Linked DNA regions of Homo sapiens. The protein of the gene in region 2 interacts with the protein of the main gene of each other region in a biochemical or structural test. Each region holds a gene or a part of one and is shown on either strand. Other genes may lie near its edges. The genes, in order: SCUBE3, MMP2, PZP and TIMP4.

Region 1 (7,000 bases), on a different chromosome or scaffold from region 2:
TGAGTTGGGGAGAGGTGGAAGGTGGAGTTTTCCTGCTCCTCCACCCCCCAGCCCTGCTCCCTGTTGGTTTCACACCCCTCCTTTAGATGTCCACTGCTCCCAGGCCTCTCTCCTCCCTTTTGCACAGCCTGGCTTGCCACGTACTCTTGCATTGGGCCACACTGGTAGAGCCATCAAAGTCTGTGCTTGTGTTTCCTGGACAGCGGCTGCAGAAGTTCTGACGGAAGTCGGGCTGATAGGAGCCCATGGCACAGCGAATACAGCGGTGGATGCTGGTGTTGTAGTAGTGCCCTGGGGAGCACTGGACTGTAGGCAAGGGAGAAGGGCAGGAATCAAGATGGTAGGCAGGTGGGAGTTACGGGGCATGGGATGGACAGGATACATTCATCCTGGAGAATCAGGAGATCAGATACATCAAAGTTCTTTTCTAGGGTCTCAATCTTTCCCAGTCATGCCAGAATTTAAGCCCACGGAAAAACAGAGTTTACAGAGTGGTTGGCTACAGTGCCAATCCTTTTCTTTCAGACGCTGAGCACAGTGCCAAACCTATATAGAAACTCATTTGGGATATGGAGGAGAATATGCCACCAGTTCTCCAAAGTGGAGGGGTAAGTGGGACTGTTAATTATTTCTCAGTTCCCAAGCTTGGGACTAGTGGAGGGGCAGGGTGGGTCCTGGAAGCAGGATGGTATGGTTGGTCAAGTAGCTGGGCCCATTACTGGTTTGGAGAAAATGGTGGGTCAGTGTCCCCTCTGGGAAATTGGAGAGTTTTTTGGGAGTAGTTGGGGTTGGGGCATCCCCCAGGGAGGTGAGTAGCTTACTCACCTTTGGTGTCACAGTCTTGGAAGGAAATGGCCCCTTCATGCTTGGTGGTGAGGCCCCCACCACAAGGGAAGCATAGGGTCCGTCCTGCTTCAGGTTGGTAGGTGCCACGTGGGCATGGCTGACAGGGCTTGAACCCATCTACAGAGTGTTGGCCAGGTGGGCACTGACCTGCAATGAATCAAGGGCCCAACTCTGATGGGGATGGTCCTGAGTCATCCCCATGGGGTCACCCGATCTCAGGGGACAAAGGTATACAAACAGGATGTTGACTAAGAGAGTGGCCTGGAGCCTGGGCCTGCCCTTTGGGAAATCCCATGCCCATGGGCATCCCAGTGCCCACCCTACCCCACTCTGTATTGTTTGTTCCCCTGGCACCTGCACACGTGGTGACGTTGGTGGCTCCAAGAGGCCCGTGGGCATCACTCCCAGGGCAAAGGTCGCAGGAGAGCTGCCCTTCTCTCTCCTGGAAGGTGCCCGCTGGGCATGGCACACACTGCTCCGTCTGGCCGTGGTAATACGTTCCCTGCGGGCAGCTGACTGAGGGAGAGTCGGCCGCGCTAGCCACCCACCCCCGCATTTCCCACCACCCAGGCCTGGGACTCCCCTTCCCACTCCCCGCCACAACCCCCGATTCAGGGAGAATCTCTGTCAGGGAACAAACACAATCCTACTTGGGGGGATAGGAGGGTCAAAACCGTGTGCAGGAGGATTGCTGGCCCCACCTGGCATCCTTCTAGATTTCAGCCTGGAACCAAGGAAGGGAGGACAGCGGGCAGGAGCATCCTGGCTGCCTCATAATTTGAGAAATGCATCTGAGGCCACAAAGGGTCCTGCTCTGAGTCAGGCCCAAACTGGGTCTTTCCTACATCCCTGCTCCCCAGTAAGCTCCCTTACCACACTTGGTCCCAGCACGGTGCTGCCCGGGCCTACAGGACTCCATCGGCTCTGCTCGCTCCCCGGCTACCAGGCCCGGCTTGTGGGCCAGCTCATAATCAAGGCCTGCCAGGCGCAGCAGGAAGCGGTCCTGGTTGATGGACTTTCTGAGCATCTTCAGGGATCCTTTCAGCCGCCGTTCCATTCGCTGTCGGAGGCAGGGCAGCCCACAGCTGGCTGGTGGTGGATGGCCGTGTGTATCAGGGAGGAGAAAGAGTTGCTGTGAGCAGGAGGGCAGGGGAGCAAAGCTGGGAGCTAGGAGGGGCATGGTAAGAGGGACTAGCTTTTAGGCTTGGCACCAGGCAGGGTCTGCCCCTAGTACAGGCTCCATCCCTTCCTTTTGCTGCTGAGACCTGTGGTTTCCCCACCTCTGCCCTCCCCTTCCAGTCCTCTTCCCAACAGTGCCCCCAGTCCCACCTGTGGTTTCTTCGGCTCTGACCTCTGCCTCCAGTTCCAGGGTGAGCCTTGTGACCTCTTTGCCTGGAGGGGTCCGGGCCCGTCGGCCCTTGCCCTTCCGAGAGGAGTCACACTTAAGGTGGATGAAGGTGACCTGGCATTCAGAGCAGGGGGCACCACCTGGGAGAGAGGGCTTGTCAACCCCAGGGACATCCCCTGGAAAGTTCTCACTCCCAGCCCAGACAGACCTCCCCAGATCTCTAACTGTAACTATCTCTCAATCCTGTTTTAGTCTAGGGTCCTAATTAGTTGGTGGAGGGGAATATTCTGGGACTTCCTTGGGTGCTATGCCTACAGCTGCTTTTTCCTCTGCTCTGCCTAGAGTTCAGGGTTCTGGTGGGTTTTTGGAAGCAGAGGAGCTGAGGGGTAAGGAGGATTTAGTGGCCAGACAGCCAACTGGAATGGGGTCCCCAGTCCAAACCTGGCCCTGTGATTCTGCCAGCCTCCTCTGTTTTGCCTTTGTTTCGCAGGTGCAAACGGCATTTGGCATCCTTGATCTTGAAGGAGGCCCGTTGTTTAATGGACAGCACTGCAGCCTCTAGAGGGATGGTAGAAACTCAGCACAGTATGGGATGCCCATGGAGGTCGGGGGTGCCGTAGGGGTTGTTGAGAAGCTGGGTAATAAGCCAGGGGCTTGGCTGGGGGAGTGAGATTATGAAAGTCAAGGGGATCAGATGTTAGGGCAGAGGGAGTGAGGGAGCAGGGTTGGAGAATTACAGGGCAAAAAAGAGGATCCAGGAGAAAGGAAGGCCAGGGGATTGATGAAGAACAAAAATAAGGGATTAATGTAAGAGAGTAGGGTGGGAACAGGGCTTCTGGGCTGGTGCTTACCATGGCAGTGGTTGGAGTTGGTGCTGTTCCCATTGTGGCCAGCTCGGGCTGGAGCAGCCCTGGGGCTGGGGGTCCCACAGCTCACCGTGAAGCCATTCTCAGACTCTGAGAAAAGGAGCCTGTCACAGTTCTGACCTGCCTTCCCAACCCCCGCTGGCTGGAGGAATCCAGGGGGAATGAAGGAGCTGCCTGAACGGCCAGTCCTTCCTCTTTTCTCCTCCAAAGCTCTCCAGCACCCTCCTCCCATGTACCTGGCAAAAATCGGGCCCTGGAGGGACAGGTCAGGGCACAGGTGTCCTTCTTGCCAGACCGGTTGCAGCTGAGCATGGCTTTCGAGGCCCCAGGACTGCCCTGACACTTCAGTGGCTCTAGGAAGGGGAGAGAGGCCTGAGCAAATGAATGCATTCCTTTCCCTCAGTTGGGTAATTTGGAGGAATCAGCTACTTGCATAACTATTGTTGTACCCATGGAGACTGATGATGGGATTGTTTACTACAAATTTCATGTCTTTAACTCAAAATGGCTACATTCTCCACCCTTTCCACCTCACACCTTTCCCCAATGTGATACTCTATGCTTTCCAGAACCCCAACTGCTCCCTGAAATGGCAGTGTCATCTTTGGCCAGCAGAGGGCACTGCCCACCTGTGCAATCTTTGCCATTCCAGTGCAGCCGACCCTGGCCTGCTGGGCAGGTACACTGGTAGCTGCCAGGAGTGTTGATGCAGCCAAAGCGGCAACCTCCCCGGTTGATGCTGCATTCATCCACATCTGGGGGAAGGAGTAGGGAGACAGAAAAACAACGATGGAGTTGGAGGAGGAGCCGGAGAGTAGGCAGTGAGTGAGGGCCTTTGGTTAGAGTTTCAGGTACCCTGCATTACGCAAGATGAATAAGTTCGAGAGATCTACTGTACAACAGTGTGCCTATAGGCACATAAATACTGTAGTGTACACTTAAAAACTTAAGAGGGTAGATCTCTTGTTAAATATTCTTACAATTTAAAAAAGTTAAAAAGGCATTCTAGGCACTGTAAGATGACTACTGGCCTGAGAAGAGCTCAAACCTCCTCCAATTATCTCTGTCCCCAAAGGAATGATCGAGAAGGGGCCAAGCCAACAAGCTTTTTAAAGCCTTCCACTCCTCCCAACCAGTGAGACTGTCATTTGGGAGCTGAGAGTGGGGGTTCAGGGACAGTTATAGGAATGGGAGATAGGAATTTTGGAGGCAGGATGCTGTTTCCGCAGTCTCCCAGTTCTTCAAAAGCTGTCTTAATTCCTCCTATTTTGTCACAGCGGATGCAGACATGGTGCATGCATCCAGGGATTGCCCATAGCCACAAGCCAACACAAGGACCTGTTCAATTGGAGGGTGAAGAGGTGAGGGGGCCAGGGTGGCTGGGGGTGCAAGCTTACTAGCTTACCCCCACAGTGGGTGATACCATACAACAGGTAGCCACGATGGCAGAGACACTGGAAGCTTCCTGGTGTGTTGACACATATGTGGTCACAGGTTCGATCAAAGGAACACTCGTCTATATCTGGAAGAGCAAAGATTCAAGCCACTGAATCTGTCTTGGAGCACTTGACCCTTGCTCAGGTGAAGGACCCAAGTGAGGGGCCTTGGCTTTCCCCCTTGAACTGAAGAGTTCCTATTCATGTCCTAGCTCTAGGACCAGTGATTTAACAATGCCATTCCATCTTCTCTGCCCCCTCTATTTGAAGTCCTTGGAATTAGGAACTGCAAGATCTGGTGCCTTTAGGTCAGGGCCCACCATGTGTGGTTAGGTACGTCCTACTCTGCCAAGGATATGAATTGGGGTGAAATCCATCCCTCAGTCCTTGCCAGGCTGAATGCTTTGATATGGAGCTAGTCCGCTGAGGGGAAAGAGTACCATTTGCTAATTTGCAGGATGACACTGCCTCTAGAGACTCTGTGTGATATCTATTGAGTTTCTAAGACTTTAGCCCTCTGGCCTCCTTGAAGCTCTCCCACAAGAACCTCTCCTAAGGCTTTCACCTTTGGCTGAGTCTGCTCACCCTGGCAGTTCCTCTCATTGATGAGAAGCTTATAGCCTTTCTTGCAACTGCATTCGAAGCTGCCCACTGTGTTGCGGCAAATATGGTCACAGCCCCCGTTGTTTAAGCGGCACTCATCTATATCTGAAGAAGGAGGACAAAACAGGATAAAAGATACTATCAAAGGCTGAGAACAAACAAGGAGAAAGATCCCTCCCTCACTGACAGAGACATGCAAAAATCAAGGAGTCCTGGGCCTGCCTCTTCTTGATCTCTCTCTGTCTCTTTCTCTTTCTCTTTCCTGTCTCTCTCTCTCTTTCCTGTCTCTGTTTCTTCCCTGTTCAGGGGATCTGTGGCCATTAGTAACACCCTCTCTTCTGGGATTGAGTGTTCTTATAAGGGGACAAATTGGAACCAAAACTAGGAACAGGCCCTCAGGGAATTACCTAGAGGAGGGGCAGGTGGGCATTTGACCTAACAGGCTAGCCCTTAGTCTCCAGCTGATGGCCATTCCCTGAAAGGTTGGTGGGTAAGGGTTATCTCTTTCCTGTCCCTCAGGACGGGGGGTTGGGGGGGTGCGGGGCAAGGAGAGGTGGAGGGTCTAAAGGGACTCACTGAAAACGGGCAGCCCTTTAGGGAGGAGGAGGAGCTGGGAAAGAGGCCAGGCAGGGAGGACCTCCAGGAGAGCCAGTGAGGCTGGGTAGCTGATGGGGGAGGGCTGGGGGCCAGGCAAGGGGCTGGACTGGGAGAGATCTGGAGAGACTCAGGCCTGAGGCAGCTTTCAGCACTAGTAAGGGAAAGGGGGGCTGGTGAATGGCTTCCTTCCTGAGGTCAAGTTCCCCAAGCTGGTGGCAGACAGGACCCAGGCTACTCACCCCTGGTTGGGGGAAGGGGCAGGGAGGGCAGCCTTTCACTTCACTCTTAGCATACCTGTCAACAGTTCTTCCCAGCAGGAAACCTCTCAACTCTGGCTGGCTGACCTGCTGCCCTAGCCTCCCCCCTCCTCTCGCAGCTGTTGGGCCAAAAGACACAAAGAACGAGCCCAGTCCTCCTCGTCCCCACTCCTTGTGACCAGGGGATATGGACCTAATGAATCATCATTTTCAGTATGGCTACCCTGCCTTTTTCCTCCACCCTTTCCCCCCATTCTCCCTCAGACCTGGCTAATTAAAAGGAAGGGAAACAGAATGCATAATGTGGGTAACTATACTGTAATAACAGTTAACACAAAGTGTTTCCATTTGCCAAGCACTGTTCTAAGTACTTTTTATGTAATCACTCTTTTAATCACAACACAGTATGAGGCGAGCACTATGGAAAACTGAGGCACAGAGACATTAAGTGACTTGTCCAGGATCACAGAGCTAGTAGGAGACAGGGCTGGGATCTGAACCCAGCTTCAGTCCTCCTAACTAGTATCCTACTCTCCCTTTGACCAGTACAGCCTTTCGAGGGGTAGACATCATTTCCCCAGAGCCCACTGGGAAGGTCTGAGGAATGTGGGGTAAGAAGGTTATGGAACACACCTGTGACCTCATGCACACACACAGTCAGGGCTCAAATATCCTTCCAGACCCAGGAGCAAATGTGAATCGCATGTCCATTAACTAAGAGGGTTAGGGACCCATGGGGGATAGGAATGAGAGTAGGGAAACAAGGTGGGGTAGGGGAAGGGGGCACTAAGGAACTGGCTGGACTTCTCTGTCCCTTGAACTGAGATGAAACAGGCAGATAGGAGACAACCCTTAGCTATGTCCTGGGTTCTTCATAAGAAGGAGGTTGAGGAGGTGTCATCCCCTAATAGGCACCCTATCTCTGGTCCCAACCTCAGCCCCTTACCAAAGGTCACTCTGCTTCTGTCCTCTCAAAGTCCTTACCTTTGCACGTCTTCCTGTCTGGCTGCAGCATGAAGCCCACAGGGCAGGTGCAGTGGACACCAG
Region 2 (7,031 bases):
CTTTCCTTCTTCCCTTCCTCCAACAGGAATTTACTGAGCGCCTGCTTTGTGCAGCATACACAGAGGTTGGTCTCTGCAAAGCCCTGCCCAAGGGGGCTCACAGCTGAGGGGCATGTGCTGGTGCCATCAGCTTCATCCAACTCCCTTTGCCCCTAGCCCATCTGCCCCCTTCCATGGGAGGCTCATTAGAACTCTGGAATCTGGCTTCCTGGGTTTGAATTGCAGCTCTGATACTTCCTAGCAGTGTTGGCTTAGGGAAATTTCATCATCTCTCTGATCTATTTCCCATCCATGAAACGCGGTGCTATTCAGTCCCTCCTGCACAAGGCTGTTGTCAGGGGTGGGTGAGATGAGTCTAAAGATACAGTGCCTGGGACTGAGTCTAACTTAGGTGTGGTTCATTAAGGTCAGCGTCATGTCATTGCTTCCTGGTGGTAGCCTCAGACTCTTTGCTGCGCCTTGACCCGTATCCCTAACCCCACAGCCATGTCCACTGTTGGTGGGAACTCAGAAGGTGCCCCCTGTGTCTTCCCCTTCACTTTCCTGGGCAACAAATATGAGAGCTGCACCAGCGCCGGCCGCAGTGACGGAAAGATGTGGTGTGCGACCACAGCCAACTACGATGATGACCGCAAGTGGGGCTTCTGCCCTGACCAAGGTACGAGGCCCTGGTCATTGGACAGAGACCCTGGACATTGCCCTTGCCCCTAAACTTGCTCCAAAAACCTTCCTGAGACCTCACCCACTTCAAGCATAGACACTGCCCCCCAGACACCCACCTACCCAGACCCGCCCACCTGGGCTGAGACAATGCCCATCTCTGGTGGAGCCAAGGTCCCTGCTTAGATCCTGCCCATCCAGGTGGAGGCACAGCCTCCAAAATCAGACCCTGGTAGACCAGATGCTGCTACTCACCTCCTGGGTAAGAACTGGCCTTCCTGAGGGGTCACTGCTCTTGTCTTCCCCTTCAGCCACCCTCCAGGCGGGCTTGTGACTACCAAAATTGGCTGAATTCTGAGCACAGATTACCAGAGAGACAATTCTCCTAAGAGACATTCCCACTGCACAAAGAGGTGCCTTCAAGGAGCTGGTAGGCAGTAGAAGAAAGGAAAAAAGGAAGAGCCTCATGCTTGATCTGACACCATGGTCCACGCAGCCCTGGGGGAGCCCCCAGAGCCCTCTCTCCCCCATCAGTCAGCACCATCTGTTACCAGGGTGTAAATGGTGGGTCCTCGTCAGTCCTGGGTGCTGAGGATGGAGCTGACTGGGACAGCTCTCTGCCCCCTAGGACTCACAAGCTCAGGGGAGAGAGTGACCAGGAGACAGCTTGTGACCTTACTATGTGCTCAGTGCAGTGAGCAGGGTGCTTGGGGCCCTGTGCCCAATCTAGGCTACAGAGCCCAGGGTTGCAGGGTTGCTTAAAGCTCCCTGATGGCCCATAATGGCCAGGTCAGTGGGCAGGTCCAGGGCCTGTCAGAATTAGGCAAGCCTGTCTTTATGTTGCTTTCATTCTTTTTAATCATCATGAGATGGAACTTGGCAGATGTCAGTGGACAGAGGCTGGCCAAAGGAGGTTTTCTTATCCCCTGCTAAATTCCTTGCTAGGACACAGTCTGATTTTACCAGCTTAAAGGTGGGATTCTCCACCTTCCTGAGTGGTTCAAGTATCCAGAGCTCAGTGGCTCACCCAGGGTGAATATTATAGTCTCCTGGGGCTGCCATGACAAAGTGCCACAAACTGATGGCTTGAAACAAACCCCATGTATTCTTTCATGCTTCTGGAGGCTGGAAGTCTAAAATCACGGCGTCAGTAAGGCCATGTTCCCTCTGAAGGATGCGTCACTCCAGTCTATGCCTCTGTCATGACATGGATGGCCTTCTTCCCCCTCTGCTTGCCTCTCCTCCTTTTTTTTTTTTTTGAGACGGAGTCTTGCTCTTGCCCAGCTGGAGTGCAGTGGCATGATCTCGGCTCACTGCAACCTCTGCCTCCTGGGTTCAAGTGATTCTCCTGCCTATTTCCAAATAAGTTCACATTCACAGGTCCCTAGGGTTAAGACTTGGGCAAATCTTTTCTGGGGGGACGCATTTAACCACAACAGGGTGTGACACAGGTTTTGCTCGCTGGCTGTGGCTCAGCCTGTGCAACCACGCTAAGTGTGAAAGGTTTTTACTGCTTTCACCTGGGCAGAAATGGTGGCAACATGGGGCCAGCCTATCCCCACTCTTCTTACCTCTTCAGAGAGGCTGAGGAGCTGGGTTTGTAGAGCTCATCTTTTATAGAGAGACATAAAAAGCCAGGAAGCAGGATTTTAAAATGAATGGGGTTTTAAGTAGAAAATTCGCAGATACTACTTGTTCTGTTCCTTTATAGCACACCTGTCCTGATACTGACTTGGAAAGAGACAAGAAGACTTTGGCTGACCCCACTTGGAAACAATAGGCACTAATCCCAAAATTGTGTATTGATCCCAGAATTCTCAGGAAAAGAAAAAAAAAATCAATACATGCCGCTTCCAGGGTTCTCAGCCTTACTGTGGGGCTGTCCTCAAAAGTCTGCATCACTGGGTCAGGTCTTGACTTCTCTCTCATCTCTCTTCCTGTCTTTCAACCCTCTCTCCTCCCTGCAACCCTCAGGGTACAGCCTGTTCCTCGTGGCAGCCCACGAGTTTGGCCACGCCATGGGGCTGGAGCACTCCCAAGACCCTGGGGCCCTGATGGCACCCATTTACACCTACACCAAGAACTTCCGTCTGTCCCAGGATGACATCAAGGGCATTCAGGAGCTCTATGGTAAACCTCCGGGCGGGGGTTGGGGGTGGAGGGTGAGGAGGGGGGAGGTCATGTAGCCTGGGATGGAGGCCCAGGGGGTGGGACCAGCAAGATCTCATCCAGCCAGGAGTGCTGGAGACGAGGGCAGGAAATGGGAGTGTTGACCTGGTCTTGGGAAGGCAGAGCAGCTCTCCAAGGGGATACTTGGATAACTCTTCCCTATCCGAACAATGCTAATATCCATGTCACTCTTAGCGCTCCATTTCTGGGTTTCTCCCATTTTCTAGGTGAGTAAGGTCACCTGGTGCAAGGTTACACAGGTTTGAGCAACCCAGTGGAGTTTAGAATCCAGGAGAATAGCCAAGTACAGGACAGAATTTTCCATCATGTGGAATGACCTTAACAATACGGGGGTGGAAGTTTCTAGTTTTCATAATAAGCTTTGATTTTTAGTATGTAGTAGAAACAGAACAACCAGTGCCTTAAGCCAATTATTTATTTATTTATTTATTTATTTATTTATTTATTTATTTATTTATTGTTGGTTCTTACAGTGAGGCTAGAGTTTAAAAAGTCAGTTCATTTTTAAAAAATATTTAATGGTCCAGGTGATATCTGAGCCAGGCCAAAATAGTGAAAGTGGTGCTTGAGTGATGAAGTTTGGGGACTGCTAGACTCAGGAAAAAGCCCAAGGTCTGCCGTGAGGGGTGCTGGGTTCAAATGTGGCCTCTGCCCTTCACTAGCTGCAAGATATTGTGTAAGTCTTTATACCTCTTTGGACTCAGTTTCCTCATCTCTAAAATAATTGCTTATCATGAAAAGTGCCATACTGTCAGTTCTGGACACACCAGCGGCCCCCTGACCGCCCTGACTCTTGTGGGCATAAGAATCTGAGCTTTGGGTTTGAATCCTTGGGCAAGTCACTCAACTTTTCTGGGCCTCAGTTTCCTCACCTGTGAAATGGTGCAATCATGATACCCCACTCCCAGGGCTATAGAGAGGACTGATTTGGGTGATGTCAGTAAAAAGCATATATAAAGTACAAAGGGCCCCAGGACTCCCCAAGTCCAGGCATCTTCTTGTTACCTTACGGAGCTTACACTAAGGCCAGAAGGCGATTTCTTCTGACTCTTAGATGGTTGGGTGGGCACCCCTGGGGGCTCACCCTAGTGGGGAGAACCTCTGGAGCTGCAGAGAGTCTAAGGTCAGGTGTTCTCCCCAGGGGCCTCTCCTGACATTGACCTTGGCACCGGCCCCACCCCCACGCTGGGCCCTGTCACTCCTGAGATCTGCAAACAGGACATTGTATTTGATGGCATCGCTCAGATCCGTGGTGAGATCTTCTTCTTCAAGGACCGGTGAGTGCAGGAGCTTGCTTCTTGTCCTCCTTGTCTCCTGTCCTCTGCTCTTATACCATTATTCTTTTCCCTCACTCTTCGCTGAAGACTCCGCCAAATGCTTCCCAGAATGACCTGAATTAGGCAGTTTCTGCTGTGTATCAAACAACCTCCAGGTTTCAGTGGATTTGCACCCAAGCATTTTGTTTGCTCTCTCATAGTCTGTGGGTCTACTAGTTATCTTGACTTTCAGCTACAGTTTGGGTTCAGGTGTGCTCTGCCTGTTGTTCTCATGGGATTAGCAGCTACTCATGGCAGATGACAGGGTGCAAGAGGCCAAACTGAACTACACAAGCTCATTTAAAGCCTCCACTCACATCTTGTCTGAGAATATTCCACTGCCTGAAATAAGTCACATGGCCAATCCCAAGACCTACCCTAGAGGGTAGTACTGCAAAGTCACATGGAAATGCATATGAATGCATAATCCTAAAATCAAAATGGAGGGAAGAATTGGGAACCATAATTCAGTCTACCACAGGCCTTCTAGAATGGCGTTGCCCTCAAATGGCCAAATTACTCTGTGTATGGGTGGTGAGTGACTGCAGAGTAGAAAGAGGTGGTATTCTTCATGCTATAGATAAAGATCACCACTCAGTTGACTAAAGACTGAGGTTTACCCTAATGCCCTAGTTCCCTGGAGAATGGCAGGCAGTATCTAGGACCTCATTAAAGGGTCTGTCCTTCCATTCTTCTATCATCCATCCATCTACCCATCCATCCATCCATACCTATATCTTTCCATCCATCATCCATCCAGCCAGCCAGCCATCTATTATCCATTATTTATGATCCAGCCATCCATTATTCATTATTCATCCATTTATTCATTCATAGAGTATAGTAGTTGAGAAAATGGACTCTGAAGCCAGATTCTCTGGGTTAGAATTCTGTAACTGCTACTTACTGGTTATGTAATCATAGACAAGTTAATTAAGTATCTTCTTTGTACCTTGGTTTCCTCATTTATAAAATGGGGCTAATATTCCAACCTATCTCCTAGGGCTGTTGTAAGGATTAGATGAACTTAGTGCTGAGAACAAAAACAATGCCTGACACAGAGTAAGTGTATTCATATTAGCTATTGTTATTGACAAATAATTGTTTGGCATCTACTGTGCCAAATACTTTGCTAGGCTTTAGTAGCTGGAGGAGGAAGAATGATGTTCTCGGGACAGTGGGGTGGGGGGCTGCTAGATCAGTGTTCTCAAAGACAGGCGCATGGGCCTCCTATAACAGAACCATCTAGAGTGTGGGTATTAAAAGGTGGGTTTTCTGCCCCAGCTTCAGACCCTCCTGACTGGAACTCTGGGGCTAGGCCCCAGGAATCTGCGTTTTAGCAAATTCTCCCAGTGATTCTGATGCACATTAAAGTTTGTGCATCACAAGTCCAGTTTGAGAAATAGGCATGGAGAACTGACATGGCAAGATGAAAGAAAAGTGATCGCAGAGGTGTTAGGTGCTTTTGTGAGCACGTCCCAGTCAAGGAAGGCTTCACAGATGCAGCAGCATTTGAGCAGAGCCTTCAAAGGAGAAGCAAGAATCTGATGGGGGTGACAAGTTAGGAGGTTCTTTGAGACAGAGGGACCTGCAGAGCCAAGCCATAGTGATGTGAAAGTTTCTGGATTAGCCAGTGAGAATCTGGTGAGGCTAGAAGATGTTCCATAAACTTTCAGGAAGAGTTTCCTCTACTCTAGGCACTGGGCCAAATTCTGGGGTGCAGATGCCTTGCCCTTCACAGGGTCTGCTGGCCAATGGGGAAATGGCAAGAATGCAATGAGAGATGAGACTTAGAATGTAGTGAGAAATCAGGTCCCGTCAGGCCTCGAATGCCCAAATCAGGATATATAACAGCAGATGTCAGCACTGCTCTGCAGTTCCCATTGTAAGGATCTGGCAATGTGCTTCATCTGGAGCTCCTCCCACTAAGAAAGCCCTGACCACACATGCAGATCTCAGATGTGTGGGGCCTAGGAAAGGATGCAGAGCCCAGACCCAGGCTGGAGCCATCCCTGGCCTACCACATCACAGTTTTCTTTCAAAAGGAACGTGATGAGTGTTTAATGGGTTTATTTGATTAACCAGTAAATATTAAACTTCAACCATGAGCAAAAATTGCTGCTAGGCACTGGTGAGGGTGGGGGTCATGAAGGACAGTATTGCAGGGTGATTAAACTCAGACTTTGGAGTCAGATCTGGATATGAATCTTGGTAATAACTAATTTATTTAGTCATTGATGTAGTGATAACTAAGTAATTTGAATCCTAACCTCTCTGAGCTTCATTTGCTAAATAAAAATTGTGACACCTTCCTACGCTAGGATGTTTTTCTGCAAATAACAGAGACCATCCCTCTGCAAACTCAATCCAGCCTAAACAGTAGAGAGAAATTGCTTTCATTTGGTACAAAGTCCAGGGGTAGAGCTGCCTGCAGGGGCAGAGAGAGGGTCAGTGACTTGATGTCTTTGTCCACTGCTAGCCTCTGCACTTACTTCATCCTAAGGCCGGTTCTACCTCATGGTCACAAGAAGGTTACCAGTGGCAGTTGGGGCTCTAATCCCTGCCCTCTCCCAGGAAGCGAGAGAGAAAGAGACACGCACAGATACACACACACAGACCCCCAGATGTGAAATACAAGTCTGTGTGTTCCGTCTTTACACCACTGTAAGTCATATGGCAACTGCTGAATCAGTAACAGTGCTAGGGAATGCTAAACTCTGATTGGCTTAGACCAGTAGTTCTCAAACCTTGGCATGCGTTAGAATCATCTGGAAGGCTTGTTAAAACACAGATTCTGGGCCCCAAGCCCAGAGATTCTTATCTGTAGATCTCTGTAAGGACCCAATCATTTGCATTTCTAATGAG
Region 3 (7,811 bases), on a different chromosome or scaffold from region 2:
GGTATGTCCATACATTGGAATATTGTTCAATATCGTTCACTCATGTAAAGGAATGAAGTACTATATATATGCTACAACATGGAAGAACTTTGAAAACATCACGCTATGTGAAAGAAGCCACACAACATAGGCCACATATATTATGATTCTATTAATATGAAATGTCCAAATAGGTAAATTCATAAAAATATAAAGTAGATTAGTGTTTGCAGAGAATGCACGAATTAGTATTTCTACTTGTTGAAAATAGGAAGTGACTACTAACATGTATGTAGTTTCTTTTGGGGGTGATGGAAATGTTCCATAATTTCATAGTGGTAATAATTACATAACACCATGAGCATACTAACAGCCACTGAATTGTACACTGTAATGTAATAAATGTTATGTAATGGGAATTTGTGTCCATTTAAAAATTGTAAAAAATAGCCAACTATGGAAAAAATTTACTGGTTTTTTTTTTCAGATTCAATGTTATAAATGAAGGAAATAATTTCCTTTCCTGCAAACTTTATTGCACATTCATTCAGATTTTCTCTTTCACTGTCCCATTTCACATTCTGGAAAAATCAGATATTTTAAGACAAAACTACTCTTTTCCTCATTTGGAAAACATTTGTCCTATTATCTTGCATAGACAGTTATGTTTTTTGTCACTACTGTTTCTACCATGGCCTCAACTATACATATTAGTTATAACATTTAATGAAAGAAAATAACTAACATAAAAAAACTAGAAAAGATGATTGGCTACTTTCTTTCTTATACAGTGAATCCTAAAATGGCCTTGAAATCTGGTACCAGCTCCTCTATGATGCAGTCTAAGAGCAGTCTTGCCCTCACAGGGACCTAATGGGAGAAATGCTCACAAGTGCCCTGGTAGGCTGAACTTGGTCCCACTGTGGATCTTAAAACAGCACTGTATACTGGCTCCAGGCCCTCTCATCTGTGATTTGAGAGCAGGCCTGCCCACTCAGGGACCCAGTGGGACACATGCCCATTCATGAACCCAGAGGCAGGCCTGAAGACCTGGGTCTCAGCTGTAGGCCCTGAGGCAGCCCTGTTACTTGGTTCTCTTTTCTCTCAGCTGCAATCTGGACCAGCACTGTCTGCCTAGGAACCTACCCAGTGACCCAGTAGGAGCCCTCCTAAGGACCCAGAGGAAGCCACATTCATCCACATATCTCGTAACTAGCCTACAATCTGTGGACTCTAAAGTAGACCCTCATCCCAGTGCCAGACCTACTGACCAAGGTCTAGGAGGCAGTCCAATTTACCCAGGGAACAGACAGAATCTAAGCCTACTAGAGCCCCAGTTAACAGGCCTGCCAACCACAGACCTCACTGTTGACCCAGCAAAACCATGTGACCTGGCTCTACCTCCAGTTGACCACAATTCTGGAAGCAATCTTGTCAATCCTGGGAACCCAACAGGAGGATCCTGAGGATCTTTACCTGTAAAACCAGTCTATAAAGATGGGAAAAGGTGTTTGCTCCTTCAGATGCATAGAAACCAATGCAAAGTTACACAGATAATGATGAACCAGGCAAACATAATACCACCAAAGGAAACCAATGAAGTTCCAGTAACTAATCTCCACCCCAAATGGAGATCTACAAATTTCCCCCCAAAATTCAAAATAATCATCTTAAAGATGCTCAGTAAGATGCAAGAAAACACAGATAGACAACTAAATAAAATTAGAAAAACAATGTATGAACAAAATGAGAAGTTTAATAAAGAAATAGAAACCATTAAGAAAAAACACACAAAAATTATATAAGAACAGAACTGAATATTTTAATGGAGAGCTTCAACAGCAAACACAGTCACACAAAAGAAAGAATTAGTAACTTGAAGACAGGTCATGTAAATAGTTAATTAAAGGTGAAAAAAGAAAAAAAATTAAAGAAGAGTGAAGAAAGTATAAGGGACCTATGGAATACCATCAAGCATGCAAATACACATATTATGGGAGTCCTAGAAGGAGAAAAGAGGGAAATGAGCAGAAAGCTTATTTAAAGGAATACTGGAAGAAAAATGTAAAAGCTAGAGTATTGGTGGCAATATGGGGATACGAAAATCCTCATGCACTACTGGTAGAATTGTGGTGTGATGCAACCATTCTGGAGAGTTATTTGTCACTATTTAGTCACTTAAGTACATGCCTCTCATACAACAATCTCACTCCTGTGTATGCGTCTTGCAAGAGGATTTACCTGTCTCAAAGGGTATATGTAAAAAGATATTTATCAAAGCATTATTTCCTCATGGCAGGACAATAGAGACAATCCTGTTTTTATCATTAGGAGAGTGGAAACATTAAACCTCTTGGATGATCACCAAAGAGGGCTATACTGTAATAAAATGCAATTAATAAAATACATACATATAAACATATAAACATGGGAGGATGTTTTAAAACTAGCAATAACTAAAAAGAATAAGAAACAGGCAAGGTCTTTTTCCAATACTCTTTATATAAAATAAAAATACACACTTAAGACTTTCCTTTCCAGTAATGGTATACAAGGTAATTGAGACCAAACTTCCCACTTAAATTAGGAATGGTTGGTTATATATATATTCACTGGAGGTATTGAAAAGCAAAGACTGTGAAGAATTATGAATCCAAAGTTCAGAAGCAACATAGCAACCCAAAGGGGCAATTCTGTGTTTAAGGGCACTTTCCCCTTAGGGTATTTAACAGCTCCAGAATATTTGGCTGAGAGATTTAGAAGCACATTTTAAAGCCTTTAGTAAATAAAATTGCAGCGTCTAGAGTCCAAGGCTCATGAAACTGGGGCAAGGAGATGTTCCTGATAGACCCTTTACATATTGTGTTGAGATATCAAACTGATGGTAGAATTCAAATGGTCCATAAACATATGAAAAGATGTGTAAAGTCATTAATAATGAAAATTAAGGCAAGATACTGCTTCACTCATCAGATTGATAAAAAGTAAAATGCCTAGCAGAGTAAAACGATGGTAAATATATAATAAACTGAAAATATCCACTGTTGCAGATGGGTATTCAAATCCATGTAATACTCTGAAGAGCAATTTACCAATCTGATAGATTTCAAGATGTACATACATATATAGCCTATAACCCAATCTCTGCTATATACCCTAGAGAAAGTCTTGCAAATATGCTTAAGTAGACATACCGTATTTGTAGCAGTATTATTTGTAATGTTGAAAACTATGAAGAATCCAAAATTCAGCACTAGGGGAATAGAGTAACAGGTTCGGCCACATTCATACAATAGAATGTCGTATAGATGGTCATTAAAATTAATAAATTTTATCCTCATTATCAATGCTAATAAGTCTTAAAACCATAATAGTGATGACATATTTTACAATATGTGCATACCACTTATACATATAAAATACAAAACACAAAATTATGCTATATATTATTTACATAAATATGGATTAAAAACATAAACACATCTTGAAGAATACATATCAACTTCCTAATCCCACAACATTGGAAGGGAAATGAGATTGGAGAGAATTACAAAGGAAACTCCAACCATATTTGTCTTGATTTATTTCTTTTTTTGGGTTGGTGGATCTGGTAAAAACTGGAAAAGCTTCTAGACAAATTTTAAAAGAGCACTACCATTGCCATCTTTCATTTCTTAAGAAGAAATGACCTTAAACAAACTTGGCAAGTGTTTAATTTTATTAAAGTTGGGTGCATGTAAGGTACGAGTGTCTTTTATCTTGCTCTCTATATTTGTGAGTATATATATATATAACATTTCATAATTTAAAAGAAATTATTTCATTCTATGATAATGTGACAAAAGAAACAAAGATGTGAAATAAAAACTAATAGGAAGGAATCCACTTTCAGCAGTGTGGCCAGGAATTTGCTCTCCAAAGAAGGGATGATTAGGCTGAAATATGGAGAAAGAGAAAGAAAGTTGATTTAAAAAGTTTCAAGCAATACAGTATGTAAACAGACACCAATGTCTGCAGTCTAAGGATGGCATTAAATCTGCTGGTGGTTTATATGTGATCATCATTGTACTACAAGTTCTATGAGAGCATGGATACTGAATATCCTGTTCAATATTGTATTTTCATCACCAGAATAGCACTTAGCACACAGTATGGCTCAAAAAAAAAATCTCAGATAAAGTCAATGACATGGTTTAAGGGACTCAAACGTTAGAGTGCTCAGACAGTAACAAGGACAGATAGGATCAACTAAGAATCTGATCAGGTCAATGCTGTGAAATAGACAAGTGTGATCTTTGATAACTCCTTTCTAAAATCTCTTTGATCTTTTATCTCTTTTATCTTTCATTGATCCTCTACTCTTGAAATCCTTATTTTATATCACTTTCTTCCAGGACCATGTACTCAATCAACTGCTAAAAAAGAAAACCCAAAAACCCTAAAGTCTATAGTTATAACTCACTCAGTCCCAGAAATGAATCTGCAATGCATGAGCTACTATCATGGTAACATGTCCCTGACATTCTTTGTCAGCATCCTTTGTCACCTGCTTGTAAGGATTTTGAAAGAGATGGAGAAAGGTAGGTTGAAGGTTCCTTATCAGGAGGTTTGCTGTCAAAGCTCATTCTAAATGGAATACAAATTTTATCTTCCAGACATGCCTCAGTACCTATCAGAATTTAGCCTTGAGAAAAATGAGGCAACCACTGAGAGTAATGACCCTTTTAGGGAATCTGTGCTCAATTCTGAACTCTATTCAGAGGCCTTGGGGTGGGGCTTGTTTGTACATAGTGGCCACATAAAGCCTGGTAAACTCAGCTGGTCTCCAGGGCGAGGCTGAGGGCAGAGAGTTGGACACAACCCTGAGATTTATCCCTCACAATGCGGAAAGACAGACTTCTTCATTTATGTCTTGTGCTACTTCTTATCCTGCTTTCTGCCAGTGACTCAAACTCTACAGAACCGTAAGTCTCACTCAAGACCCCTTCCTCCAGAGTGCGTTTCAGTCTCTCCCTTGTGTCTTCGCTTTGCCTTCCTTTGTAAATGCCACCTTTCCACTCATTACAATACCTTCCAAATATAAGAAATTATTCCAGTTAATCCCTTGTTTGTCTTTCATTTATCCTCTATTCTTGAAATCATTTTTTCTACACTGGGCCAATCAGAGTCATAAATACGATTAGTCACTAGGAAGCATGATTAAATAAAACACTAGATCCCAACTTCACAGAACAGTTCTTTTGGATGGAAGGCACTGAATATAGAGATATTCGAAATATATAGTGAAGTGCAACTTAACATGTATTGTAGGCCATATATATATATACAGAAAGTATAGCTCCTTTATTTTTCAATCATGTATCAAGTCTTCACCAACAGCCCCCAGTGGGGGACCAAAGCAGGGAAAATAATTTTAACCCTATCCAGTTGTAAGTTGGTACAACTCAATAATTGTAAGACTTCTTTTCCACCTCTCCCCAGTTCCTCTCCTCTATAGTGTCTAGAGAACTGTGGTCTCCATTAACTCCTAATAGAGAAAACTGTCAGAGTCCTTGGTCTCAAAGTTCTCCGTCCTTCTTGGCTACTGTCAGTCTGACTTCTCCTTACTTGCTGGCATGCACTGTTGAAGTTTAGCCATCTGGTTTCTCTTGTGTGTTCAGGACCCAACAGTCCTCTCTAACTGACTGTCTCACTTCAGCTGTTTCATATCCCATAGAACTCCTACCTTTGCATCCTGCCTCAAATACTATGGCTATTGTTTCAACACAGCCTGTGATGCAGGGTCACCTTGCCCCTTTGCAGTCCAGGCCATTTAAGGTCCCTGGCCTTAACCCAGCTGCCTTTACATTTCTTCCAGAGAATGGTGAGAACTCTTGGGTCCAATAATAGCACATAGGCACTGAGGTGTCCTGGAGAGGTTAAACTTCTACCTCTCTCTTGCATACCCACACTGCACTTCTAGATGCCTATCGTGTCTCCTGTATTCCAGACTGATACAGGGAAGTCTTCAGAGTCCCAAATCGGGAAAGGGATAAGGGGTCCCTCTGCTCTGTGTGTTACCCTTATCCATCTAACACAAATAGCCTTCTTCAGGCCAAAGCGCAGAAAGCAGAAATAAGGAGTTCAATCCAGTAAGTCTCCTGCTTTCCTCAGGCTTTTTCCTTGCACAATTTCCTGGCAACCGGTAGGGGTACATTTCTCCCCCACTATCCCTCTACCTCATCTACAGCAGTGGGCTCTACTACTTCCAGCTGCTCTCCATCCAGAAAGCATATGGGAATATGTGGAGGCTATTTTGCTTTCTGAGAGCAGACTGAATGGATAAAGCGAGTAGCGTGTATTGGGTCAGAAACATTAAGCAATTTGTGGTTCTGGATGCATTCCTACACTACATTGGACCATGCTGCCATTGAAACCATCCTTTTACGTTGTGTCTGCCACTGAACAAAGAACAACAAGCCTCATGCCCTAGTTGTCACAAGCAGAAGGGGTGTTTTCTCCCTTTATAAGGAGAAAACTTAACTTCATCCCTCCAGAATTAACCCTTGATGTGATAAATGTGAGAGACTACAAAAGAGAACCAATAGCCATTCTCCCCTGCCTTGGGGCAGTAAGCTTCAGAAAGATGAAGGTTTCAGGGGAATAAAATGAAAAAGAGAAAATTAAAAGTTATCACTTTAATATTTGCTACATTTAGTCCCTGCTAAAGAGGCAAATATTTAAAATGCAAACATTCATGATTGAGTAAACATATATTAAAACATTTTAGCAGCTCACTACCAATGACATCTTGGGCAAGTTTGTCAACCTGGATTTGTTCTGATTTCAATATCTGTTAAAAAAATATTAACTGAACTCATATAAAATAGTTCTTTAGAATATCAAATATATGTGGAATTAATTTTTAATCGTGATATCTTTTAGGCTTATAATTTATAAGAATAAAAATAGTAAATAAATTATAAATATATATATACCTTCTTATTAAGATCAAAGAACTAAAGGAAAAATTTTTTGATGGGGATGTAAAAAATGATACATTTTTATTATTTATTATGCTGTTAAAAGAGCAGTGATCAGGAGATCAGAAGCATCCAGATACCAGAAAAAGATTAAGACATAAGAGACTAGCTGAATGACTATCAGTGAGTTACTGAACTGCCCTCAGCTTCTCTGCTAGAGAACAAAACCTTACTACTCATACAGTAAAATCATCTGAAACTTGGATGATTTCAGAGTGGCCCTGGAGATTCATGGCATATAGTTTTGCCCAGGAACACTTTAAAACACATGTAGCAAGACTGGTGTGCTGGAGCAGACTACATGGAGGATGAGGGGACCAAATTTGAGTTCCACATTCCACAACTCAATTATCCTTGGATTCTCTCCTCCTAGTCTCACACCTATTAATTTTGTAAAGCAACAATATTGGGTTTCTTGTGTCAAATTGCCTGTCCAGAAAACAATTTAAAAAGTAAGAGTTTATGTTGGCAATGGAAAGTAAGGGTAGTAAAATAATATAAGAAAATAATAGTTTTTACTTGCAAATTTACTCTATAAATGGCCTAACCCTGCAGATATTGAATCATGAATCACTGAATCATTAAAGCTTTGAAGAGTTACATTTTAGTCACAATTTACTGATTTTACTGATTTGGCATGGGGGCAGGGATTTTATCTATCTGTTATGGATTCAAGTTTTGGGGACTGATGAGGATCTCATGTTTTAGCTTCCATGAACATGGAGAGTATCATGCATGTACCTTACAGCATTGCTGGGAAGATTAAATGGCTTAATACAGAGACAGCTTAACAATTCTTGTCATGTGGCA
Region 4 (6,984 bases), on a different chromosome or scaffold from region 2:
GCTCAGTGGTGTGTCCTGCCTCTGCCTCTTCCATCCAGGAGCTCCTCAGTTCTGTACAATTCCACATCCTCAGAGCTAGGAAGCCCTTATCATTGTAGCCTCCAGTGCCTATGACTCATCAAGAGCCATGTCTGGACAGTGAACTCTTTTAAGGACTGTGCCTTGTTACTGAATCTCCACTCTCCTGGCCAAGGCATGGCAGTGACTAAGTGGTCATTCATTGCTGAATGTGTGGATAGATCGTGGAATCCCTTCACCTGTTCCCTCCCCCACTGCTGTGCTTTTTCTTTCCCTTGCTTTCTTTCTAAATATTGTTTTATGTTTTCAGGCCAGTTTAGATCCCACCTACACAATGAAGCTTCCCTGATAGTTCACAACTACCAAATAGTTCCGTTCTCTGAACTCCAAAATAATTTAATGTTGCATTCATTTATGGAGTCATATTTTTGTGTGATTCTTTAACTGTTCTATCCCAGCCAATTCAGTATGGAGGAATCCTGCCTGGGCCCAAGTTCACAGAGACAGAACTATGTTAGACTCAAGCTCCTGTTAAGTCCTGTGCAAAAGGCAGAGTTGACCTGCAAGGAGCAGTTTTAGAGAGGAGACTTCGACTCAAGTTGCCAAAAATCTTATACTAATTTAAACTATTTGAAAAACGGAAGCAGCTGCCCTACACTGGGTGAGCAGCCTGTCCTTAAAATAGTGAAACGGTGGCCAGGGTCACTGTACTAAGAACTCTTACATTTAAAGGGAGGTTACAAGGCTCCTCCTAACCCAGAGGTTGTCTGTCACTAACACAGCTCTGTTTTATGCCCAAGAAAATGCCACCTGGCTCAGCCTACTGCCCAAGGAAGACCCTGGCTCCTTTCTCACTACCTCCCCTAGGGCAGAATCTATTATATTAAGGCCAGTTGTTGGTCTTTTAACTTACCAGTCAAGAGATACTGCTTCTGGCTGTTGGCTTCTAGTTTCACACCACAGAGGGAAGAGTCAAAAGGCGTATAGATATACTGAACATCCTTGACTTTCTCAAACCCTTTGAACATCTGACAGGCAATTACAAAAAAAGGCAATATTGGGTCAGTGAGTGTACTGTATATATTAACAGACAAAAACCTCTCACTTCTCAGCCTAAAAATGTAAGCAAAAGTCTAGTTGAGGATTTTGTGTCCTCAGATGTCCCTACTGGGTTATTTTCTCTCTTAAAACAAAACAACAACAACAAAAAACACCTAAACCTTGGTTTATTCCAGTAGGTACCTGTAGTGGCACCATACACCAGCAGCTGTGGGACCAGATGGATGCTGAGGCCCTCCCTGGCAATATCCCTGGGATTCTATGGGCTCTGCCTCCAAATCTCATCCAGTTCCACTTCAGTATCTAGACCCAAGGATTACTGAGCCAGGCCACCTGAAAGCTACCAGCCCTCCCAGAACACAGACTCCACTTTCTCCATCAGCCTTAGGGGCTACACATCCCAGCCTGCCCCCATGTACCTTTATCTGTTTGATTTCATACCGGAGCATTTTTTCAGTGTCAGCAGGGTCTGCACTGGCCGGAACTACCTTCTCACTGGAGATTTTGGCCCGAATCACTGCATAGGAAGAGAAAAGAGGGAACCTTCAGCAGCTGGTGGGGGCAATACACCTGAGGTCTGGATGATCCAGGGTCCATGAAGAAGTCTATAGGGCAGTTCTTGGTTTTGGTGTGGCTGGGTTGTGAGCAACGTGATGTGTGAGAAGGGGGACCTGGAAACACCTCCCCTGCAGTCACTGGAAGTTCCAAACCCCTCAGGCTTATTAGGTCCTATAACCGCTAAGCTGTTTCTGCCTTTTGAACCAGTTAGTCTGGAGAGCTCTAGTTCTCCATAGCCGTTTGTGCAGTGGGGCACAGGGTAGGAGTCAGAGTAGAGAAGGGAGGAGGAGCCCCTTCAGGGCAGTCGGTGTGAAGTTTATCTATTGCTGTGGTCAAGGCCTCTCATCCCGCCTACAGTTGATATTAGTAAATGTTTATTGAATTCATAAATGTTCTGACCCTGCACTGAGGTATTGCATCTCTTGCCATTTGAGCATTAATAACCAAAAACTGTTGATGATGTTCTTCCTCTGTGCCTGGCCTTGCACTAGGCACTAGGCCCATAGATGTGATTAAGACAGGGTCCCCATCCTGCCGAGCTCTTGATCTAGTGGAGTGCACACGTGTAAAGAACAACAGCACAGCATAGTAGGAGCGCTAAGACGGTTAGAGATGCTGAGGCGGCACCAAGGAGCCCGGGAGCCTGCAGAGAAGGGGAGAGACCTAAGTTAGCCCTTGAAGGATGAGTAGGAGTCTGCCAGGAATTTAAGGGTGTGAGGGAGGGCATTCCAGGCAGAGGGAAGAGAAAGGACAGAACGTGTGTGTTGCCATAGGGGCTTGGTGGCAACCTCAGTTATAGGCCTGGACAGACACGGGTAGTTACAATGCAAGCCCTCTCCCCTCCCCTTTCTGTCCCCAGTCTAGTAGTTCAGAATAATCATCAGATAGCTCCGGTGACACCTTGTGTAATGACACTCCATAATTGCAGTATGGCCGGAGTGAGGGAGGTCGCTATGGAAGTCCCTGATGAAATCTTCATTTCCTTATGAATCAGTCAGGTTCTGGGCTTGCAAGGTTGCTATGGCGCCTGGTCCTTCTCCACCCATCAGCCTCAGCAAGAGACAACCGGTAAGAATTTGAGCTCCTCCCTTTTCCTCTGGACTCCTGGTGTACTGCTGGCCAGATACTAATCCCCCACAACCACCCCCTGCTGTGGACCTCGCGGACCTCGGACTCACCAAGTGCCGAGTGGCAGATGTGCTGCTGAGGGTGCGCCGGGGCGCAGCTGCATGCCTCACCCAGCCCCGGGGGCCGCAGCAACGCCAGCAGCCGCAGCAACAGCACCCAGCTTGGCGCGGGCCGAGGGCTCCCAGGCATGACACTGCAGATCCGCGACTGAGCCTGTGAGGTCTGGGGGACTGGACGGCCCCAGCAGGGCTCCTTCCCAAGGCCGTTGTGCCCCTCGCCCCAGGCTTTATGAGGTGGCCCTAAGGGCCAATCCCGCCCCGACGGGCTCCGCCTTCCTTTGGCTCTAGGCCACCCGCGGAGGCAGGACCCGAGGCTCTTCCGACCTGCATACTCAGTAAGATGCAGAGGGAAGCCTGGAAGGAGGCCCTGACCTCTGTTTCCCTGCCTAAGTCATGAAGCGATCTGGAAGCAGAGGGGAAGCACTGGGAGAGGGGATGGTGTCAAGGGCAGAAAGACGGAAAGAGCCACAAAGACAAATGCATGAGGACAGAAAAACTGAGGGCTGTGATTCAGGCAGAAAGAACAAGAGTGAGGAGAGGCACAGACAGAAAGAGTGAGACAGGCAGAGTCCCAGAGAGGCAGACAGAATTACAACAGGCAAAAGAGACAGTGACAGAGAAGGACGGACCCCTTGCTGAGCTGCACGCTGGGAATGAGACGAGCTACTCAGGGCTTCTTTCAGCTGCAGGAAGTGCTTTCAATGCCCTATTTATGAGGCTCCAAAGCAACAGCAAACAGTAATAGAACAGGACAGAGAAAGTTGGGGTGTGTGTGTCTTGGCTCTGTTGCCTGGGGGGTGGGGAGAGATGTCAAAGAAGCAGCCAGTGCTTTAGAAACCCTTTCTCACTCCCAGAGCCTCAGACTCTCCAGATAGCTGGAGACAGCGCTCTTGGTGTACAAAACACAAAGTGTCCCATCACTTAGGGCAAACCTTGGACCTCAAAGCCCTCTCGAGGCCCTAGACTACATTGATTTTTATTGCATGTCCCTTCTCACTGGAGACTCTGTCATGTTCTAGAAGGTGGGACAGCTTAGAAAACAAAGAAGCAGGCTGGGCGTGGTGGCTCACGCCTGTAATCTCAGCACTTTGGGAAGCCAAGGCGGGTTGATCACCTGAGGTCAGGAGTTCGAGATCACCCTAGCCATCATGATGAAACTCCGTCCCTACTAAAAATACAAAAGTTAGCCGGGCGTGGTGGCCTACACCTGTAGTCCCAGGTACTCAGGAGGCTGAGGCAAGAGAATGGCTTGAACCCAGGAGGCGGAGGTTGAAGTGAGCTGAGACTGTGCCACTGCACTCCAGTCTGGGCGACAGAGTGAGACTCCGTCTCAAAAAAAAAAAAAAAAAAAAAAAAGTAAAAGAAAAAACAAAGAAGCAGGGGACTTGGGGGTGACTGTGACCAGAGCCTTGTCTGCTGTTTGGGCACAGTGTTGCAAGCCTCCAAATCCCAAATCTCCATGGGATTATTGCTGTGGGATGTTTCCACATGGTGCTGGACTGGATAGTGGGAGGCTGGGTTCCAATTCTGACTGTCACTGTAGCTTTGTGACTTTTGCCTCTCTGGGCCTCAGTTTTTTCTTCATAAAGTAGAGTTGAACTACGTGATTTCTAAAGCCCTTTGAAGTTCTTCTTCCCATCCTTGGCTGGCCTCAACCAGGAATGCTGAGATCCTCAGGCCAGATACCCCCAGTATCTGTTCAAATCTTAGTTCCCATAGGAGTCTGACTTTTCATCAGGGTCAACATTATTTCCTTCAAAGGATACCTTTTCATTTTGATGGTGTTAGTGATATTTGAAAAGAAGGGAATTGAAAGAGAGCTGAGTCTGACTGAAAGATGAAATGCCCGGGTTAGCATCCAGGCTGGTTCTTCATACAATGTTCAGACCAAGATAGAGGCTGATGTACTATTTGAAGGGAGCTCAGAAAGCATCCCATCTGATCTCTTCATTGGACAGATGTGAAGGCTGAGGCCCAGTGAGATACAGTGACTTGTAGAAAGTCCGTGGCAGAAGAGGACTAGAGTACTCGTCTCCTGACATCTAGCCCAGTGCTCCTTCCACTCCACAATATTACTTCTTACATCACCATTTTGTAGCAGCTTGAAATCTTGCCCTTAGAGGATAATCCTTCTTTTAAGGTTTTGTTGCTCCTCTGTTAAAGTATGGCTACCTCAGTGTAGAGTTCGCTCCCCTAAGGATCTCTCTGCATTTATAAACATACTGAATTCTTCTACCGGCTCTCTTTCAAACCCCAAGCTGGGAAGAAATGGGCCTTCACATGCAAAGCCTTGTTTGGTGGTGAGATTGGGGTATTGGTGAGCAGTGAAGAGTGTGAAAGAGGGAGAAAACAACCAGGATCATTACAGGAAAGCTGGGCCTTTGAAGGTTGTAGGTACCAAGAGGGTACATGCTGACAGGGACATCAAGATGCCAAAGATGTGTTTTTAAAATAAAAATACAGGTTTATTAAAGTACATCTACATATAGTAAAGTTCACTCTTTCAGAGATACTTTCTTTTTTTAATTCTCTTTGTCTGAGGGCCAGTCCTGCCCAGGTTTTGTCTAATGCAGAGAAAATTGACAGTGCATTTTAAAGATGTAGGGTATACCAAATAAGAGTACAGGGTTCTTGTAGCACTGCCACTAATATGCTCTGTGACCCTGGGAACTCACTGTCATTCCATGGGTCTCAGTTTTTTAATCTGTAAAGCAAGTAGATTGGACTAGTTCTTTAAAGAACCCTCCCAAGGGTATTCCCAAGAAAAATATGTGTAGGATTCCACGGAGAGATGGGCACACTCTGACAGTTTATTCATTTCTCTTCTGATTTCAGCTGACACTGCCCACGTTCCCTGTGGTGGTGAAGATTGGCCACGCTCACTCAGGCATGGGCAAGGTGAGGCAGAGAGGCCTGCTGTGCTTCAGGGTTGAACCAAGAAGGGCAGTTTTCAGAGCGCCCATTTGTGAACTGCTATTCTCCCTCTGTCACTGATGAATTCTTTCCAAAGAGAAGATGATTTGCCACCTCTAAAGCCATGAGTGTCACCCAACCAGACCTCTTTCAGTAAGCAGAATGCAAGCCACCTGCTTGGTCCTCTGGGTCCTTTGCAGCAAGTGTGGCCCTTGAGTTCTGGGAAGGGAAGCTAGGGAGAAGGGGCCTCCTGGGGAGATGTGGCACCCAGATTAGTGTCTGGATCGGATACATATTGGTGGGTTTGGAGGCTCAGGGCCCTTGTGACTTCTCAGTGTGTGTATGTGTGTGTCTCCCTTTCCCCCTTTCTGCCCTGCTCTAACATTAGGTCAAAGTGGAAAACCACTACGACTTCCAGGACATTGCCAGCGTGGTGGCTCTCACCCAGACCTATGCCACTGCAGAGCCTTTCATTGACTCCAAGTATGACATCCGGGTCCAGAAGATTGGCAACAACTACAAGGCTTACATGTGAGTAAGAGTGGGGTATGTTTTCTCCTCAGTGATGATGGAAAAGCTGAGCCTCCACATTGCAGCCAACTCTCAGATAACAGAGAGGGTGCCACTTAAGTCAGAGATTTTTTTACCTGGGTTCCTTTTAAGTCAGAGGAGGGGTCTGTGGACTAAGATGAGAAAATATATTAATATTCATTTTCACTTGCCTCTAAGGGAAATTTAGCTTTCTCTTCATTTTGAACAGAGACGACAGACTACATTAGTTACCTGTACATAGGAGTTTGTCACTAAAGGTGATTACTGATTTTCTTAGATCTTAGATCTTATAGTTGAGACACATATCTCTATGGATTATTCTCATTCCTACTTTAAAATAATGGTACTTGTTAGGCTTGCCACTACCTCCTGTTACTTAGAAACACATATTTTACTAATCACAGATTTGTTTAATATTTTTGATAACTCTAATTGGGTAGCTCTGGGATCCCATGTACTCTATCTTATACAGTTACACATCTTATATATTGTGTTCATTGGAAGGAATCCATAGGCTTCCCCAGACTGCCACAGCACAAAGTTAAAAAGTTCCTGGTATAAATATCCAGCACTGAAAAATGCTACAGAACATTAAAAGCCCAGTGCATGACTTCTCTGTAACTGTGTCCATTTGCCAGGATGGAAAGTTAAAAATTTCCTGCATTAGAATTTAGTAAAGGAAAAGATTTCAAAACTA

What was found.
Region 1: of the proteins of MMP2 (region 2) and SCUBE3, one has a biochemical effect on the other in vitro, tested with the Homo sapiens proteins (one study listed by IntAct).
Region 3: the proteins of MMP2 (region 2) and PZP form a complex in vitro, tested with the Homo sapiens proteins (one study listed by BioGRID).
Region 4: the proteins of MMP2 (region 2) and TIMP4 form a complex in vitro, tested with the Homo sapiens proteins (2 studies listed by BioGRID).

What each region holds. Positions count from the first base shown.
Region 1 is NC_000006.12:35,237,956-35,244,955, reverse strand, and holds part of SCUBE3 (signal peptide, CUB and EGF-like domain-containing protein 3 isoform 1 precursor), read right to left. Parts: coding exon 6,938-7,000; intron 6,249-6,937; exon of another isoform or gene 5,205-6,248; coding exon 5,082-5,204; exon of another isoform or gene 4,583-5,081; coding exon 4,466-4,582; exon of another isoform or gene 3,816-4,465; coding exon 3,690-3,815; exon of another isoform or gene 3,414-3,689; coding exon 3,297-3,413; exon of another isoform or gene 3,151-3,296; coding exon 3,046-3,150; exon of another isoform or gene 2,753-3,045; coding exon 2,636-2,752; exon of another isoform or gene 2,335-2,635; coding exon 2,176-2,334; exon of another isoform or gene 1,936-2,175; coding exon 1,720-1,935; exon of another isoform or gene 1,363-1,719; coding exon 1,201-1,362; exon of another isoform or gene 994-1,200; coding exon 826-993; exon of another isoform or gene 526-825; intron 307-525; coding exon 145-306; intron 1-144. UniProt on the Homo sapiens protein: Is a positive regulator of the BMP signaling pathway, required for proper chondrogenesis, osteogenesis and skeletal development. It acts as a coreceptor for BMP ligands, particularly BMP2 and BMP4, facilitating their interactions with BMP type I receptors.
Region 2 is NC_000016.10:55,489,167-55,496,197, forward strand, and holds part of MMP2 (72 kDa type IV collagenase isoform 1 preproprotein), read left to right. Parts: intron 1-484; coding exon 485-658; intron 659-2,634; coding exon 2,635-2,790; intron 2,791-3,991; coding exon 3,992-4,127; intron 4,128-7,031.
Region 3 is NC_000012.12:9,205,391-9,213,201, reverse strand, and holds the start of PZP (pregnancy zone protein precursor), read left to right. Parts: upstream 1-4,806; 5' UTR 4,807-4,860; coding exon 4,861-4,943; intron 4,944-7,811. UniProt on the Homo sapiens protein: Is able to inhibit all four classes of proteinases by a unique 'trapping' mechanism. This protein has a peptide stretch, called the 'bait region' which contains specific cleavage sites for different proteinases.
Region 4 is NC_000003.12:12,155,889-12,162,872, forward strand, and holds the start of TIMP4 (metalloproteinase inhibitor 4 precursor), read right to left. Parts: upstream 3,025-6,984; 5' UTR 2,953-3,024; coding exon 2,814-2,952; intron 2,704-2,813; coding exon of another isoform or gene 2,602-2,703; exon of another isoform or gene 2,004-2,601; intron 1,595-2,003; coding exon 1,497-1,594; intron 1,047-1,496; coding exon 932-1,046; intron 1-931. Other genes in the region: SYN2 (synapsin-2), read left to right, coding at 5,658-5,720, 6,124-6,266. UniProt on the Homo sapiens protein: Complexes with metalloproteinases (such as collagenases) and irreversibly inactivates them by binding to their catalytic zinc cofactor. Known to act on MMP-1, MMP-2, MMP-3, MMP-7 and MMP-9.